4 separate regions of the Homo sapiens genome follow, and all the other regions are reported to be linked to region 1. The links are microRNA targets in miRTarBase. Many come from high-throughput screens and were not tested one by one. Region 1 holds a microRNA gene; each other region holds the end of a gene's coding sequence.
What was found. Region 1 holds the annotated microRNA hsa-miR-190a-3p (CUAUAUAUCAAACAUAUUCCU, at 1,618-1,638, opposite strand). A microRNA usually pairs through its seed, bases 2 to 8, with sites in the 3' UTR of a target mRNA and lowers its output. Matches are read on the target gene's strand: a 7mer-m8 pairs with bases 2 to 8, a 7mer-A1 pairs with bases 2 to 7 and ends in A, and an 8mer does both.

Region 2: the mRNA of HOXD10 is a reported target of hsa-miR-190a-3p. Seed matches in the 3' UTR shown: 7mer-m8 at 2,442-2,448, 7mer-m8 at 2,440-2,446, 7mer-m8 at 2,438-2,444, 7mer-m8 at 2,436-2,442, 7mer-m8 at 2,434-2,440, 7mer-m8 at 2,432-2,438 and 7 more.
Region 3: miRTarBase lists KCNMB4 as a target of hsa-miR-190a-3p. Seed matches in the 3' UTR shown: 7mer-m8 at 2,697-2,703.
Region 4: the mRNA of PLEKHA6 is a reported target of hsa-miR-190a-3p. The part of its 3' UTR that is shown has no 7-base or 8-base seed match.

What each region holds. Positions count from the first base shown.
Region 1 is chr15:62,822,539-62,825,645 of GRCh38, reverse strand. It overlaps MIR190A (microRNA 190a), which reads right to left and starts at 1,689; the gene lies at 1,605-1,689. The region is part of intron 54 of TLN2 (talin 2); the gene reads right to left.
Region 2 is chr2:176,118,784-176,121,884 of GRCh38, reverse strand. HOXD10 (homeobox D10) reads right to left here. Exons shown (of 2, transcript NM_002148.4): 2 at 1,948-2,931. The coding sequence ends at 2,654. Among named protein-coding and RNA genes, the nearest start is that of HOXD9, 2.4 kb to the left of the region's middle.
Region 3 is chr12:70,430,222-70,433,328 of GRCh38, forward strand. It overlaps KCNMB4 (potassium calcium-activated channel subfamily M regulatory beta subunit 4), which reads left to right. Exons shown (of 3, transcript NM_014505.6): 3 at 264-3,107. The coding sequence ends at 432. Among named protein-coding and RNA genes, the nearest start is that of PTPRB-AS1, 36 kb to the right of the region's middle.
Region 4 is chr1:204,220,758-204,223,864 of GRCh38, reverse strand. It overlaps PLEKHA6 (pleckstrin homology domain containing A6), which reads left to right. Exons shown (of 23, transcript NM_014935.5): 22 at 280-403; 23 at 1,086-3,107. The coding sequence ends at 395. Among named protein-coding and RNA genes, the nearest start is that of GOLT1A, 8.3 kb to the right of the region's middle. RefSeq lists enhancers at 763-1,262, 1,263-1,764.

The DNA.
Region 1 (3,107 bases):
ACTCCTGACCTCAAATGATCCGCCCACCTTGGCCTCCCAAACTGCTGGGATTACAGGTGTGAGCCACCATGCCCGGCCCCATACTTGCTTTTCACACCCTGTATGCTCCTGGTCTGGAACCAATGAGTGCCACTCAAAGCCCAAGTGCAGCCATACAGAAAATGCTGTATTTGTCCTCCTCCTTCCTGAACAGTTGGTTCCTTTTTCCCTTCACCATATTAATCACTACAGAGAACATGCTGGTCAGTGACAAAGTCACCCAAAGAAACAAGAAAATCACATCAATTCAAACAACTGGGCTTCGTCTGCAGGTCCTTTTGAAACCATGTTTTTCTTTGTTCGTAATAACTTGCTGTCTCTTTTCCATGGCCATTTGCCATTTCAGTCAAACAATGTAACTGGACTCAAAACCAAAGCCGGTGTTCTCTAGCTGTGTGAAGGAGGGACTGATTGGGGCAGCATCTTGAAACCCGCCTGACAGAGCACCTGCCAACACACACAGATCGCTTCTCAATGGAGAAGGATTCCAGAGACAGGATCCATTATGTAACTCCAGAAGCCAGGACTCCAACATTACAGGACCCTCTCCTGTGTCATCACCTCTCTGATGTTGCTGTTGGTGACCCTGTCACTATGCATTCACCTGTAAGCAATGTGGCAATGACTTCTAGACACAGTAAGGGGAAGCTTTCATGACTACCTGTTTAAACCATTTGCTTACACCTTTTCTCCTCCAAAACATTGAGAACAGTAGTTCTCTTTCCAGAAAGCAGTGCTCACAAAGTATTTTGTTTGTTGAGAGAACTCAGAATGAACTCACACATACTTCACAGGCTTTTCTATAAGGAAGAGGTCAAAACCAACCAAAGAAGGCTGTTATGTACCAGAAAAAATGTTTTCTATATCATAATCCCAAACTTCCTGCCACAGTCAATTAGGCTATGATATTACTTTCCGATTGTTGGCTTATTCTAAATATTACCAACCTCCACTGACAAGTTAACCTATAACAGGAAATTCAAGAGTTCAGTCAACATTATATTACCTTCATGAGATATATTTAGTCCTATATCCAAGGTTTGTACAAAGCTCACTGACTCAGTATCCATGCAGCTGGTATGGAGGATTTGCTTTATACATTCTGTTACTGTGAGTGGAAAGGGAAGTCATAGAAAACTGATCTGTGCTCCTTGAATTTTTGCTGAAACCCTGACATGAACTTCTAAATTGAAGATCAGGATAAAAATGAACCAAAATGAAACATGAATCTAGATGTGTTTGAGGCTATAATCCTGACCTTTATTCTGTGTCACAGACATGGGTTGGAACCGTTTTTTCCACCAAGCATATTGAATTCCTTAAGGATTCATCACTGCACAAAACTAAGCCACACAGAATACCCCAGGCTCTTATGAAACATCAACACTTATTGTTTCTATAATAAGCAAGTAATCCAGTAATACTGATACAGGTCTCAAATGCTATAAGAAGAAATGGAAGATAACATGAATTGTAATGAGTGCTCCATCTTCTAAATCTACTTGTGATTTTAACGTGTTCTTTCCTGTTGCCTTATAAACTTTATTAGGAACCCCCGGAGACAGGGCAAGACACTGTAGGAATATGTTTGATATATAGTTGGATTAAATAACAACCTAATATATCAAACATATCACACAGAGGCCTGCAGAAAAGGCATCCAGGTTTGACTGAGCTCGAGACTAGGCACAGTATTGAAGGTTACGGCTGCAGGGGGTGGTCACTTTTGCAGCAACTCCGATAACTGTCTTTGGAGCACAAGTCTGCCTGCAGATGTGGAAACGGCGCCATTAACAATACTGTCAGCACATGCACCAGCGCTCACTGACATTCTCATCTCCCCAGGTGAACAGCAGATTCAACGGTGCATGTCTGGGAGATCCCAGGCAAAAAGTGATGCTTAAGTTTTAAGAGCCTGAGGTGGAAATGTACCAGAATCATCATCAAAGACCATGAGCCATTCTCCTTTAAAAACAGGCAACCTGAGACGGTGGTGAGCAGAGCATTTTAGACAAAATTACTGTCTCTCCCCAAACTCTTCCTGAAAGCAGTGTGAATACTCCCCAGAAGGAACACACATCCATTTTATACTGAAGGCATGTGTGTGTACCAGGGTAGGGTTATAGGGATGTAATAAGCAATTGTTTACTGACAGTACCCTGAGGATTTTTTTAAGGTTTTGGGAGAGAATGGAGAGAAGTGATTCAACTCAAAAGACTGGCTGATTTTGGTGCAGATTGTTGTTATTGTTTTTTAATTGGGGAAATAAATTCCTTTATAAAGGCAAGGAAGATATTTCATGCAAAAGTTATTGCAATGTGCCCTATTAGGCACAAAAACTATGGTTTGGGTTGCAGGTTTTCCAAAACAGTTTCATAGATAATATCCACCTCTGGCCATCAGGCAGAGAAAGACTTCAGACCATTGTGAAGCATTCTAGAAGTACCCATCACCCTTCCTAATACGATGGGAGTGAGCTAAGGTAGGAACCCTCAAACAAAGGATTCACATCATCAGTTATGTTAACCTTGACCTTGGCCGAAGGACTCCTTGGCTTTCCTGTAAAAACCCTCAATGTAAACACAAAGGCTATATGATCCTAGAGTACTGTAGGGAGTCCTCACAGGCCTACTTCAGCAGTCATTAATTTTTAAGGTGCTGTTATTTTTTAAACCTTTGTTTTATAAAATGTTAAAACACAGACCCTTCCATCATCCCAATTCCATCATCATTCTTGTACATTCCCTACTTATTTTCTTCATCTGTGAGTTTTTAGAGTTGTAATCATAATAAGTACATAATTCTGCATCCTTTCTGTTATACCATGAGCATTTTCTTCGTGCTACACAGTCCTAGCAACCATTATTTTTCATAGCTGCATAATATTATAGCTGCATAATATTCCTTCGAGGAGTAGCTCTAAGGGCACACATAAACTACAAATGGCCTTTGTGGGACTAGACAAGCCTTCTCTGACAATGGGGTGGGAAACAGGGGCTGGTATGGACTGAAACTGCCACCCAGGGCCATACATAGCCCTCCCAGCTGAGTGACAGTGGTCGGACCCT
Region 2 (3,101 bases), not on the chromosome of region 1:
TCTCCGATGATGCTGGAAAGGCCCTGGAAGAGAACACGCCACAGGGCAGAACCCAAATGCTAGAGCAGCTTGCTCCCGCCCGCCGCCTCAGCCCTGCCTCAGCGAGTCTCCCCGGGCAGGGCCGCTTCGCGCGGTTCGCACTTAAAGGCCTCGGAGGAGACTCCCAAAATGTCTAAAAAATTCGGCCGAATGGCTAGGTCCTTGGGACACTCCCTTCTGATTTTTTTCCCCCTACAGAGGTGAGGTTGAGCAGCCTTGAATCTGAGGGAAATGCCCATTGTCACTCCCAAATCCATGGTACAAAGCCTCGGAAGCCCGGCTGGGAGCCCAGACAAAAGCGGCCGGGGCGCCGGCAGCGGAGGGCATATTCCTTGCTCTACAAGTTGCCCAGCTCACCCTTGGAGGGCTCCCGGCCCACCTCCAGCCCCGAAAAGGAAGCGGGTAAATGGCTATTTATGGCCTGATTGATTACCTTTGCCAATAGCTTTCTGATTTTGTTCCAGATGGGATGCCTTTGCCTTGTAGCTCAGGCTTTCCTCGGATACATGGCCCGCTATCAACAGCTAATGGTATTCCCCACATGATCGGAGAAACGGCTAAATAAAAATTACCCTCCTCCTGCCCAACCGGTGTTAAGTCTGGGGCAAAGCTATTACAACGTTTTCAATCTAGCATTGATTCCAAGCCCTCTCCCCCACCCCCAGGAAATGGCCCCCTAAAAGAGTTCTGTCTTGGAATGTTCCTGGTTTTGGGGCGGAAGTTTAAAATTTTGAATGCCAGTGTCCCAGAGACTCCCTGGCTGAGGACTTATAGCACCTAAATGGATCGTTCTTAGGGAAACATTTAAAAGGAAGAAATGGAAAGGATGTGTTTTGTAAAACTGCTGGAAGCTATTTGAAACTGCAGGCAGGACCTCAGGTAACGAATTTTCTGTTAGCTTTCTCCTGCAAGGCCTCTTCTCCCTTTTCCCCGACAGGACTAGATAAGTCTGGGCTCTCTAGTGGAGATCCTGTTGAAGCCGGTGGAAGCTGGTGGGAGTCCCCTGGACCATGGCAGCGAATGGAACATTAGACTTCATGGGAAGTCATGTTCATTTGCAAAATTTTCAGTCACCCTTTCTGCATTTTCTTGCATCCCAGATGCAGCAGTTCCCACCAGCATTTTGTAATTAAATAGAGGAAAGACTGACTGGGGAAAATCTTTTCATTTCTTCCTTTAACAAAATTTCATGTGGGCCACTAAAAGGTAATGACTGAGCATAAAACCCGTCCACAAGGAGATCAAGGCGAAGTGGGATGGGAAAACTCACCCATCCTCGGCTTCTCTGGGGTCTGGCTGTCTTGCGCTTGGGATGGGGGTAGGGCTGAGGGAAAGGGGGCAGAATTGGATCCGCTGCAGTGCTACACTGCTGTTTGTCCTTGCTCCTGTAATGGAGGCCGGCAACTTCCAGGTGGGCAAGACTAGCTTCAACCTAGCCCCTGATGATTGCTCGCCAGCCAGAAATCACCAAGATGCCACTGAAAGCATTAAAAACAACACAACCAAAACCAAAGAGGAGAAAACACACAAATGGGAAGCTTTGAGGAGAAAGTGGCTTGGGGTATAGGCTTACTTACCAGGTTCAGGCCAGAGGAAAGCTCACACCCATTGAGAGCGCAATTATGTTACTATCACTGGGGACTGGGAAAGGAAAGAGGAGACTCCCCTTCCTCCCAATTATGAAAACTTCACTCTCAAGCTAGCTTATAATTCCTCTCCCCCAACCACTGCCAAAATCCAACACCCTAGGCCTCCTCCAGCTTTTCTCCCCCATCTCCCTTCCCCTACTAGTCTATCACTCCCCTGCCCAAATGCCCCAAACAGGGAGTGTAACCAGAAGATAATCTCACCATAGGCTTTCATTTCCACCATAACATATTTCCATTTCAGAAAGCAGAGGGAGTGAACTCATTTCCAGAGTTTATTGCATTATACATGCGACCAGAACATGCACAGAAAGGACAGGTTGCTGTTGTACTTCTACCAAACCACAGATGCACCACAAGGGAAAGGCTACAAGGCATAAATCGCCAATATCCCATCTCACCAAGGACAACTGCTAAATTCATTTGTGAAAAGATACATTGTAATGTGCTTTTTAAGTCCCCCTCCCTCCAACTTGTGGGTTTTCTTAATCTTTTTTTTTTAAATATATATGTCATTTTTAAAGTACTGGATGTATTCAAAATGCCATGAGTTCATGGACTAACCACACACATAGACCTTTTGTGTTAGGAAAGACATGAAAAAGTCACATTGCTGGATGGATGGATGGATGGATGCTCTACAGTTCCAATAAGTTAAGACCCAAATGAAAATGCGCAATAATAGTTACCCTGCATTACGATGAAAAAATAATAAATTACACGTGCTAAGTTTTTATATATATATATATATATATATATATATACTCATAGGGATTACAGATCACTTGCAGCACGAACATAATGACCCCAAAGTCACATTCTAGCAGGAAAACAAAATACAACAAAACAACAAACAAAGAGCGGTGAAGGTTTTGTTTCCGCTTTCCCAGTCCTCCAGCACTGGGCCCTGGAACGCGGTGCCCCCTCTCCAATCCTGGCCTCTGACCGGCCTCAGACCGGCCTCAGACCTAAGAAAACGTGAGGTTGGCGGTCAGTTCTCGGATCCGGTTCTCTCGGCTCATCTTCTTGAGTTTCATTCGGCGGTTTTGAAACCAAATCTTGACCTGCCTGTCGGTGAGGTTAACGCTCTTACTGATCTCTAGGCGGCGCTCGCGGGTGAGGTACATATTGAACAAGAACTCTTTTTCTAATTCCAGCGTTTGGTGCTTAGTGTAAGGGCACCTCTTCTTTCTGCCACTCTTTGCAGTGAGCCAATTGCTGGTTGGTGTATCAGACTTGATTTCCTCTAACAAAATTAAAGGGAGAAGAAGAAAAAAATCAAGAGGTTTTTTGTTTGTTTGTTTTTGTTTTTGTTTTTGTTTTGGTTTTGGTTTTGGTTTTCGTTTTTGTTTTTTTCTTCAGACTGTTCAAATGTACCCTTGGCCGTGACCCTGCTGGCAGCCAGGCCGCTTTGGA
Region 3 (3,107 bases), not on the chromosome of region 1:
ATCATAGCATAAGAGATACATTTTTGACACTTTGTAACATGTAAATTATAATTAATACATAAATTTGCACCAATTACTTGACTCAAGAGCTCAAAACTTTCTGTAATGGGTTTGAAGCACAAAAATACAGTGTTTATAGTCAGAGTGCAGCCTTTACTTTCAATAATGGTTATGGAAAGCAAGTTTGGCTTTAGGTTGTAAAGAGTTTTTCAGTGCCAAGGCATTTGACTGCCCTTTCTTTCTTATTCTCCATTGTCTTGCAGACCAGATGATGTGCTTCTGCATCGCACTCATGATGAGATTGTCCTCCTGCATTGCTTCCTCTGGCCCCTGGTGACATTTGTGGTGGGCGTTCTCATTGTGGTCCTGACCATCTGTGCCAAGAGCTTGGCGGTCAAGGCGGAAGCCATGAAGAAGCGCAAGTTCTCTTAAAGGGGAAGGAGGCTTGTAGAAAGCAAAGTACAGAAGCTGTACTCATCGGCACGCGTCCACCTGCGGAACCTGTGTTTCCTGGCGCAGGAGATGGACAGGGCCACGACAGGGCTCTGAGAGGCTCATCCCTCAGTGGCAACAGAAACAGGCACAACTGGAAGACTTGGAACCTCAAAGCTTGTATTCCATCTGCTGTAGCAATGGCTAAAGGGTCAAGATCTTAGCTGTATGGAGTAACTATTTCAGAAAACCCTATAAGAAGTTCATTTTCTTTCAAAAGTAACAGTATATTATTTGTACAGTGTAGTATACAAACCATTATGATTTATGCTACTTAAAAATATTAAAATAGAGTGGTCTGTGTTATTTTCTATTTCCTTTTTTATGCTTAGAACACCAGGGTTTAAAAAAAAAAAAAAGGTGAGGACATCTGGGTCTCATTTGCTTCTGCTAGGTTAAACTTTTACTTGACAACAAGGATTCCTGCTGAAGTCTGAACCTTACTGTGTAACCCTCAGTTTCCACTATTAAAGAGTATCTTTTGACGTCTGCTTGGAAAATGAATAGTATACTGGTAACTCAGTCTCCAGTCACCTCTGTGTCTCTTAAGCAAGAGATTCTAAAAGATTGGGAAAACATATCCTCCAACACCTGCCTTTGCCTAACCATTATTTTTCACCAGATTACTTCTTAAGAGAGGGAGGTGATTCTGAAGAAGGCTTCTATCTCAAAAAGCACTGGGCTTCCTTATTCATCTGTTCTTGTTGTTTTTGACGGAGTTAAAAAAGTTTGTGTGCAATACAATATACATGATGTGAAGGACACTCTTCAGCTTAGTGAAACGCTGTTTTCATTTTTTTTTTTTTTTGTAGGTCAGAAAAAAACAACAAAATCAGTTCAAGCATTTTTTTTTCTTTGTCCTTGCCTTGATGTTATGAGTATTAAAACCAGGAGGATTGCTGCCATTGTGCAGTTTGCTTAGACAAACCTGGAGATGCAACCCAGCTCACATCATTGCTACTGATGAGCTTTCTGTGCCTTTATCAAAAGTTGATTGAGAAGACCATATTTCTTTGTATCTTTTTATAAACTCAAATTCCAAGTATCAAATCGCAGGTCTCAGTGAACATCAAACCTATTTACTACATAGAATCAAACCTTTGTTTAGGTGAGATGTACATCGTTAGTGGAGGAAAAACTGACAACCTAATTTCATTTGTTTTCTTCTGATACTCTTCAGACATGCCTCTATTAGAATAAAGGTAAACTGGAATTTAAAGACAAGTTCCCCTCAGTTATTTCCATGGAGCTGTAATATGTATATATGGAGTGATGGTTTCCTGACCTTTAGTCCACATACCAATGTTTTCTTTTTTCTTTTTTTTTTTTTTTTTTGAGATGGTGTCTCACTCTGTTGCCAGGCTGGAGTGCAGTGGCACGATCTCGGCTCACTACAGTCTCCACCTCCTGGGTTCAAGTCATTCCTCTGCCTCAGCCTCCCGAGTAGCTGGGACTACAGGCACGCACCACCACGCCTGGCTAATTTTTTTGTATTTTTAGTAGAGACGGGGTTTCACCGTGTTAGCCAGGATGGTCTCAATCTCCTGACCTTGTGATCTGCCCACTTCACCTCCCAAAGTGCTGGGATTACAGGCCAATGTTTTCTTAATCTTAGAATGTGAATAACTGAAAATCATAGTCTGTGGAAAGGTGTTGAATTGAGTATAATCTTCTTCTGTTTATTTTTGTGTTTTGTTTTTTAACAGATGGGTATCTTGCTATGTTGCCCAGGATGGAGTGCAGTAGCTATTCACAGGTATGATCATAGCACACTGCAGCCTCAAGCTCCTGGGCTCAAGCGATCCCCCTCCCTCAGCCTCCCAAGTATCTGGGGTTACTGGTGTGCACCACCGTGCTTGGCTCCAATAATTTTTTTTCTAATTCAAAAGTTACAGTTTCACTGTGAAAAAGGCCTTGAACACACTATTTATGACATCTTTTGAGGCAGCTCCAGTGCCTTGACTTCAATCCCAGTTTCCGGTTGCAGCATCCTTGTTGTCTTAGCAACACAGTGAACTATTCTGAAGCATAGAGTAACACGAAACTGGGAGTCCGAGAAATAATCATCTCTGCATCACATTATGGGAGACGAAGTCTGCTTTATCCATTTTATCTTTATTCAGTTGTCTATGATTAATTGATTACAGAGTAGTAGATTAGAATAGTGCATGGATATACATTTGTGTTGAAAAAAGGGGAAGTTGATATATATCAATCTTAGTTTTCATTTATCAGTTTGATATTCATGCATTTACACTAAACGCTTCCATTTATCCCGAAAAAGTATATGCAACTGTATTCTGTAGGTTGATTTTTGGAAAAGGGGAGAAGCACACTGAATTCATAAGGTCACATGTAGTCTTAAGGTCTTACTTGCTTACAGCCAATTAAATTTGAAGCACCTTATTTATACTTGTTAAAGGTAAAACCCAAAAGAACAAGCAGAGGACATTTTAAGGTCATAAAAGGTAAATAAGCTTACCTTCTTAATGTTTTCATTCTCTTTTTGTATAAATCAGAAAATGATCTAAACTGCTGTAACAAAGAGACCCCAAAATATGATGGCTCATGTAAGATAATTTATTTTTTTCTCACATAGCAATCCAGAAGTGGCT
Region 4 (3,107 bases), not on the chromosome of region 1:
GCCCTTTGCCCAGAGATGGCCTGGCCTTACCCACAGTCACACTGGTTCTCAGCAGAGCCTAGATTCGGCCAGGTCTCCTCTGGGGCCTCACACTCTCCTCCACGACGCCCTGGGAATGAGGACAGCTTGGCCTAGCTTGAGCAAGCTCCAAGCTCAGTGCTCTCTCTTCGCTTGCCTCCCTGCCTCACTCCCTGCCTGGGGAGGGCCTCGCTTGCTCTGGGTGCCCACCCTCCTCCCCCACCCACCCCCATTCACCTCCCTGTTCATTTCTGTTTCCAGTGCAATGTGCCACCCCAAGCCCTCCCACCTCCCCTGCTTCCCCGGCTCCTCCAGCAAACCCCCTGTCGTCTGAATCCCCACGGGGCGCCGACAGCAGCTATACCATGCGGGTCTGAGCTCTGACGTAAGCACTTTTCTACTGTATTTCATCCACCTCGGGAGTGGGGCCCCTTCCTTCACCCCCATTGAGCCATCTATGCCCTCTCATTTTGGTATTGCTTCTCCCCTACCCCAGTGCCCTGTGCTGCTCCTCCCCACTATCCATCCATTCATCCATCCATCCGTCCATCCAGCTTCCCCACGCAGTGCTGGGCTGGAGCCAGCTGGCAGGGCCGCTTCTTGGATGTTGTGATGCCAATGGCCTTTGCTTCTCCAGAAGCAGGCAGGGAATGGAGCCGAGACCTCACCTGTCTGCTCTCAGGGAAGGCTCTTCCCTGACACCCCACCCCTGTGCCTCCTGTCTGCTGACAAGCTTTCCATCTGTTGAGATACACAGATGCAGAACCTTCAGAAGCCCTCAGAAGCTGTTTCTCCACTCCCAGATCTTACTGTAAATTAAAATAACATTGACAACTACGGCCAAAGGCTGTGAACCCTTCCCTTGCCCCTAGCCCACAGCCGCTCACTCTCAGTCAAGTAGAAAAGAACACTGACTTCCTTTCCTTTGTTCCCCTCTCAGGACTGAGGGACCGGAGTGGGTTTCTGCCAGGTTTTTGCAGGATGAGGCTTCTTTTTCCTGGGAAGGTTGGCTGGAGTCCTTGCTCCTCTGTGCAGCACTCTTCTCACTCCATTTCTTTTTTCTCCAGTGCAAGCCCTGGCTGAGGCCAATGCTGTGAAGCTCCACAGAGCCACATTCTGAAGCCGTCCTCTGCCCACCTGAGGTCCTGGCTCCCCACCCTGGCCCCCTGCCCCTGCACTCCCATGGGAATGCCGCAGGGAGCCAGGCTGGGGCCATGGGCTGCTGCCAGAGGACCGTGGATACCTCAGTGTCCACACACCCACCATGCCCAGCCCTGGAGCCATCACTACTCACACCGTGGTCCTGGGCCAGGGCCTGAGATGACAGTGGGGAGCACCATCCTCATTAATGTCCAAGTCACAGGGAGCCTCAGCCTTGCCCTGGCTGGGGTTGTGGTGACTCCAGTGGAACATTCCCTGATGGGGGACATGCCGTGGTGGAGAACACACCTGTGGCTATCTTATGTGAGGACTAGAGGTGAAGAGGAGATGGACACTGCCTCTGGAGCCAGCCTGACACCAAGGACAGCACTTGTCATCATCCCTATCCTCGTCAGCCCCACCCTACTGCCTCAGCTGGACCCAGGGCTTTGACACAAACCCAGTGCTTTGCTTATGGGTGCTCGCTGGGGTCCGGTGGAGACTGACCACCCTGCTTGAGCCAAAGACAAGGTGATGAGAGATGGGGAGAGGCCATTGGCTCCCAGAGGGAACAGTGCTGGCTGTGGCTAGAGAACAGCAGGTCTGTGCAGTGTCTGAGGGCAGGTTGGGAAGGGTAGCAGAGAGAGAGAGACAGAAAGAGAGAGAGAGAGAGAGAGAGAGAGAGATCCTCAGAGTGGAAGGAGGGGGAAGCAGCAGGACACATTGGCAAGTCAAGCAGGAAGGAGGGAGATGGAAAGGGGATATCAGATTGGTTTCCCCCGGTGGAGCCTTAGGTTAGTGCCCAGTGCAGTGCCAGACTGTCTCCTCTGCTCCTCCCACCTCATCCCTAGGAGGACCCACCAGTGGAGCACATGCAGCCTCAGTGGAGATGCTTGGTGTGGGGATCTGGGTGAAGGGGGTTGAGTAGCGACTGCCTGGGAGATGGCTGTTAGTAGGTCTGTGCCTGGTGTCTGCCTCGCCATCCTGGGGTAAGGGGCAGAGAGAAGGACTTGTCTTATGTAGGGTGTGGTCAGCCTTGGGGCCTTACCTACCCAGTTCCATGATATTTCTTGCCCTGTTCCCCCTGGAATGTGCAGTGGGCCAGCTGAGAGTACGCCTTGAGGAGGGGGGATGAGGCCTTAATCTGGGAGGCCTATCCCCCTATCCCAGGCATCCCAGACGAGGACTGGCTGAGGCTAGGCGCTCTCATGATCCACCTGCCCCGGGAGGGCAGCGGGGAAGACAGAGAAAAGCAAACGCATTCCTCCTCAGCTCCACCCACCTGGAGACGAATGTAGCCAGAGAGGAGGAAGGAGGGAAACTGAAGACACCGTGGCCCCTCGGCCTTCTCTCTGCTAGAGTTGCCGCTCAGAGGCTTCAGCCTGACTTCCAGCGGTCCCAAGAACACCTACTAATTCCTCTGCACTCCTTCATGGCTGGGACAGTTACTGGTTCATATGCAAGTAAAGATGACAATTTACTCAACAAATATTTATCGAGCACCTTTTATGTACCAGGCACTGTTGTAGGTGCTTAGGATATTCTCATGTTTCTGAGGGATTACAGCCTGGGAGGATTCCACCGATCTTCACTTCTAGCAGGTTTTTTAAACGTGACCCTTGGCTGTATTTCCCATCTTCACAGTTCAAGCACCCCAAACCTGCCCTTTCTCCCCTGCAGACTGGCAGGTGGGATTGGCTCCCAGGTCATTTCCTCTCTCTCTCTTTCTCCCAAGCCTTTCTCCCTCCACAGGAAACAGATTTTTCAGGGCCTTCCATGCCTGCCACTTTGTCCGTCTCTTTTTTTTTTTTTAAAGTAATATTTTTTAGAAATACATGTAAAATACCAAGAAATAATGTCTGCGCCTCTGCCACCTCTCTCTCATCTCTTATTTCATAAAGCTGGCTCTTTATGTTGCTTTACATGCCTTAATATATGTTTTATGGAGA